Linked DNA regions of Homo sapiens: region 1 is linked to region 2. The links come from fine-mapping of genetic effects on gene expression. A gene starts in region 2. The other region holds a variant in brackets. All regions are shown on one strand. Distances are from middle to middle. Region 1 overlaps RBM18 (RNA binding motif protein 18). Region 2 holds the start of RBM18 (RNA binding motif protein 18).

The links.
Region 1: its variant is fine-mapped to the expression of RBM18 in whole blood (INTERVAL, PIP 0.97).

What each region holds. Positions count from the first base shown.
Region 1 is chr9:122,235,683-122,238,600 of GRCh38, reverse strand. RBM18 (RNA binding motif protein 18) reads left to right here. Exons shown (of 6, transcript NM_033117.4): 6 at 1-979. Among named protein-coding and RNA genes, the nearest start is that of LHX6, 8.2 kb to the right of the region's middle. RefSeq lists a silencer at 1,065-1,265. The variant C/A (reference allele first, on the strand shown) is at 1,218.
Region 2 is chr9:122,263,671-122,266,588 of GRCh38, reverse strand. RBM18 (RNA binding motif protein 18) reads left to right here and starts at 1,749. Exons shown (of 6, transcript NM_033117.4): 1 at 1,749-1,874. It overlaps MRRF (mitochondrial ribosome recycling factor), which reads right to left and starts at 1,707. Exons shown (of 7, transcript NM_138777.5): 1 at 1,651-1,707. RefSeq lists enhancers at 1,290-1,449, 625-1,595, 1,018-2,217, 1,596-2,567.

The sequences.
Region 1 (2,918 bases), 28 kb after region 2:
AGCCACGTTGGCCTTCTTGCTATTCTTTGAATACAAGGGAGCTTCTACTTCAAGGCATTTACATTGGCTGTTGCCTTAGCTTAGAACGCTCTTTCTCCAGATAGCCGCAGAGCCCGCTCTCTCACCTGACTCATGTCTCTGCTCAAATGTTAATGATCAAGAGGCAGTCCCCGGCCTCCCTCTTAAAATTACAACCTGTCACTCTCCAATCCTTTCCTCACGATTTTCTCAAAAGCACTTACCGCTAACCAACATTATATCTAAATTTTTTTTTGTCTCTTTTTATTGGAATGTAAGTTTCATGTAAGCAGGAACTGTATATCACTGCTATACCCTCAGCATTTAAAACAATGGCTGTACATCATACATACTCAATAAATATTTGTTGGATAAACTACAAGAATTCTGGTATTTGAGAGCCAAAGGGCCTTAAGAGACCATCTCATATAGCCCCCTCATTGTCCAGATGGGGAAAACGGGAACCCAGAGAGACAAAGCGATTTGGCCAGGGTCACCTGGTTAATGGGAGAGCTTTAGGTAGAACCCAGGCCTGCAAACATCTAGTCCAGTGTTCAGCAAACTGGCCTCTGCCTCCTAATTTTGTATAGCCTACAAGTTAAGAATGATTTTTTTTTCATTTTCGAGTGGTTGAGAAAAAAAGTAAACAAAATATATATACTATATTGTGACATGAAAATGATACGAAATTCAAATCTCAGTGTATGTTAATAACTATTAGAACACAACCATGCCCAGGCATTTACATGTGGCTGTTTTCCCCATATAATAGAAGAGTTGAATAGTTGGCAATGAAGACTGTGGCCTACAAAACCTGAAATATATACTATCGGTCCCTTTACAGGAAAAATTTGCCAAACCCTACTCTAAACAATATTCCATGACTGGAAATGTGTTTTCTAAAATTCTCGTATTAATGCAGAGAATAAAAGCAACAGATGTCAGAATGATGTGCACCGAATATTGTTTCTTAGTCAATGTCTCTGACCCCTTACACATCTTTTGGGATAGAGAACTGGCTGTGCCAGCCCTAGTGGCATCACTGTACTGCTTAAGGCTATCAATGTGGGCTAAATCCTCTCATTGTCCCTGTGAGGAAACTAAGGCCGTAAGAACTTGGGCTTCAGATTTAGACTTGTAGCCCCAGCTATGTAAGCAGATTTGTCAGGACTCCCAGCTCAAGTGACAAAAACACTACT[C/A]CAACTCCCTTGCGGTAGAACATGTATTGGTTCATGTAACTGAGAAGTCCAGGTGTTCAGTGAAATGGTTAGGATTCTGTCTATCTCTTGATTGTGTTTTCCTCTGGGTTGGTTTCATTCTCAAGCAGGCTCTTCCTTGTGGTCTCTGGAGAGACCTCTTGAATCCCAGGTTAAAAAGAAAAAAACAAAAACCCAAAAAAAACAGATCTGTCAGAATTTATCCGAGTACGCAGGTCTGTGTCTTCTTTCCTCTGCATTCAATCTTAAACTTGGCTAAGATTACTGATTATGCTGAATGACATTTAATTTTTACATGCCCTGTGACTTTTCTAAACTAGAAGCATAATTTTAAATTTTCACCTTAAAAAACAAGTTATGTGTTCCTCTTCTGAAAACAGGCCTATCCCATTTGAGAAGCTTTCTGGTGGGCGACCTCATCAGAAGGAAGGTTACTCATTCCTGAAACAGATGGCATTTGCCATGTGTGATGCGTGGAGGGTGTAAAGATGATGAGGCAGGAGCCCTGTGCACTGTGATGTACCGTGATAAAGGGACGACTCAGCAGCTTCAAGACACCAGAGGATGGGAACCAGGCTGGGAATGGGACATGGTGACATAGGTGATTTCCCCCCGAGCTGAGCGGCCAAACGATGTTTAATAAGCTGCGTAAACGGTTTAAGGGGGACGTTGAACAAAGAACAAAGCCCCAAAGTGAGAGATATTAAGATTTAATCTAAGTAAGGAGTTAAGATACTTCCAAATACCTAGAACCATAGGATAAGCCAGGTTTATGAGGCCTTCTACAAATCAGTCCCACTAGGCATTCTCCTAACCAGACTAAACTATTTGTGCACCCTAAACATGATGGACTCTCCTGGATTCCCCTGTCCTTGTACAAGATGTGCCTTCTACCTGGGAAGTCCCTTCTGCCCACCCCCACCACTTGTCTAACAGATATTTTCCCACCCATGCTCATTCCTATAAGGCAGTTAATTGCCTTTCTGCGTCTTAACGACCTGGGTCTGTTTTAGCACTTATCACTACATATAATGTGCTTTATAATTTAAAAAACGATTCTCACCAAAAGTAAGATGAGTTTCAGGGGCAAATTACCTCCCAGAAAGCAAACAAGCCAACTCTCTTCTCATAGATGGGGTAAATTCCAGCTGCTGTAAAATCTCCACTTCCAAGGCTTCCGCTGCTATCCCTACCCTGATATCTCTGAAATTCCTTCTCTTAGATCCAGGCTCTCTTCTGAGCTGCAGAGCCATATGTCCCGTTCACTCCTGGGCACTTCCACTTGAATATTCCCTTGGTACATTGACTCAAAACCGAGCTCATGGATCCCTCTTGCCCTTCCTCAATTGCTCCCATGTTCTGTGTCACTGGGAAAAATAAAATAAACTATTAGAAACCTGAGAGTTATCTTGAACATTTTCCACTCCCCCACTCCCTATATCCAGTCTCCTAAATGTTATATAGCTGATGATATCATATATGATACATTTGTATGTATTTATACCATATATACTACATATATATGATTCTATATATAACCTTAATATGTAAAGTTGGTTAGACGTGGTGGCTCACGCCTGTAATCCCAGCACTTTGGCCAAGGCAGGCAGATCACTTCACGCCAGGAGTTTGAGACCAGCCTGGCAAAATAGTGAAACCACGTCTCTACTAAAAATACAAAAA
Region 2 (2,918 bases):
ATAAAATACTTTCACATGTACCATCTTAACTGGTTCTCATAACTAAAGAGTGATAATCACCACCCGTATTTTGCAAAATAAGAAAAGTGATCTTTCACTTCTCCAGGGCTCCCCCTGCTCCAGGGTCTTCAAACATGCCATTGAATCTCCTTGATGATCTTCCCTCACCTCTTTAACTGTTTGTCTCCGTTTTTATTTCAGATTTCAGCTTAACCATCACTTCCTCAGAGGACGGCTTCCTTGGCCATCTCCTACAGCCCAACTAGGTCAAGTGTCCTGTAGTCTGCTTTCATAGCACCCTTTACTTCATCATAGCACTTAATTCTTAACAATACAAGCTAACATTTGTGTAATTATTTGATTGTCTAATTCCCTCCATATGACTCTAAGTACTACAAGGACTAATCTATGATTTTCTTGTTCACTGCTGTATCCCCAGTACCTGGTACATTGCCAGAACACAGAAGACACTGTGAATGTGATGAATACATCAGTGAAAGTCCAGAAAGATAAATTCCTTATCCAGGGTAAACCAGAATCGGATGGGAATCTACCCTTACTATTATGGTAGGTTCTGGGCTTCCCAGCGTTGCCTCCACTGTCTCTGGTTTGCCAGATTTTTGCTTAGAGATAGTAGATGATGTTCTTCTCTAAATGCAGTACCAGGTAAAGAAAGGTACTTGTAGTATCTGACTATACACAGAATCATTATGCACCTGGCACGGCCAAAGAAGGAATGAGACACTTTAACAGGTAGAGAAAGGGCTTTTGCCTAAGAGTTAAGAGATCTGGATTCCAGTATGCCTACCTTATCACTCCCTGCCATCTGCCATTTAGATTCATAATCACACGTATTCAAAAAGCATTTGCGGCAGCTCTACCACTGACTTGTGACTTGTACCAAGTGATTTCTCCTACGTAGATTTTGTTTCAACCATAAAATGAAGGGGTCAGATCAGGTTTTCATTCTTTCCAACTATAAAGCTTTCCAAAATGGGGGGAAATGCAACAGTGTGGTTTAAAACAAAATAAAGGCACTAAACTTAGAGAAAACTCCGAGTCTTGGTTCCAGCACTTCCTAGGCACGTGACCTTAAATCGGTCAAACTCTCAGGACTTCCGTCTCATCTGTAAAACGTAAATGACAATACTATTTGTCAGGGTTAAGTAAATGGAGAAGGGCTACTGAAATGACAACTGTTTTGCCACTGGGTGGCACAGAGTGGTGGTTAAAAGTCCAGGCTTAGGAGTCGGATAGCCCTAGGTCTGAATTTAAGCGCCCTCACTTTCTGACCGCGTGACCCTGGTAAAATTACCTATGTGAGCTTCCGTTTCTTCATTATGGGAGATAATAATATCTACTCCTATGGGATTGTTCTGAAACTCAAACGTTCCCGTCAAGTGTGCGGCTACTCTTTAGTAAGTTCCTCCAGCATCCCCTAAATTCCTAGCTGGTAAAAGGAGCCCCGCCCCCACCCCATGAGACTCGCTCCAATGCCACAGGTCCCGCCCTCAGCCTTAAAGGTCAAGCTGGACTCGAACGGGTCGGGGACGGTAGTCTGGTCCCCTGAGGTCCCCCAGAGGTCCCTGAGTAAGGGTCTCTGGCACCCAGACCACACGCGCCCCTCGAGGCCCTGTCAAGGACACTCACCAGCTATCGCCCAGGTTACTAAGGAAAGACTCGTGCGACGGCGGCGACCGCAGCTGCGCGGACGTCGTGACGTCACGAAGCCAGGAGGCGGCGCAGGCTTAACGCGTCACGGGCGGCCTGGCAGCTGGCGGCATTGAGGCGGACGCGTCTAGAGGTCCGTCTGACCGCGGCGTCGGGACCTGGTTTCCGGGCATGAGCTGAGAGCACCACGCCGAGGCCACGAGGTGAGTTCGGCCGCGACATGTCCCTGCACCTCAGCGATGGGCCCGCTAAGAGGTCTTACAGGAGGCCGCCCTCGCAGGACTGCATCTCAGGCCCCGCCCCGGATTGTCCTGTCGCTGGCCCGGAAATAACAATCCGAGTAATGACCCTTCGCCTGTAGGAATTCGCAGCCAGAAATCGGGAAGCCAGGGTTCCAGGCATGACCCCACCGCTTGCTGTTAGGATCAGGTGTCTCTTCTTCTCTGGATTGCACTTTCCCCAGATGACTATTTCTGGCTTCCAGAGTTATTGCAGCTCAGCTGGAAAGACAAATGTAACCGCGTTTTGTGAACTCTGGTAGTCTAAAGGATTGTTGCTATTGCAAACGCAAAGCATTTTGATAGTCCCGTGCCGTCTTGATCTTTTATTACCCTTTACCTTTCCTCAAAAAGCCATATTCTGAGCTGTCACCAAAATTGTCTTATTTAAGACTCACAACGACCTCGTGAGACGACAAATTGTACCCATTCTAGGAAGGAAAAAGAAACTAAGTCTTCGAGTGGAGAAGCGGCTTGCTTCATTTAGTAAATATTAAGCACCAACCGTGAGACAGGCAGTGTACTTAAGTGCTAGAAATAGAACCGTGATCAAGATTGGCAAGGTCCTGTGCTGTGGGAGCTTACGTTCTAGTGAAGGAAATAGAAGAGGAAACATTAAGTAATACATTGAATTAGCATTTAGTAGGAGGAAAAAGATGGAAAAGTGGCTATGATATAGAATAACAAGGAACTCTGTTTAGGAAAGCTTTTCTATCGAGAGGATGCTTAAAGAAAGGTCATGTGACTTGCTAAAGGTGCAGTTACTAGGTGCAAAAGTCAGGATTTGAACCCAGACCCGCATAGCCTGCACTCTTACCAGTAAAACATGGTACCTTTTCGTGGTAATAAATATTAATAGCTATTGGTATTATTCCTGATTTTAGACATGAGAAAATCAGAATGTCCTATCATTCAAGTCCCAAATGTCATCTCCTTTAGAGAGGCCTTCCCTCCACTCAATCTATAGTC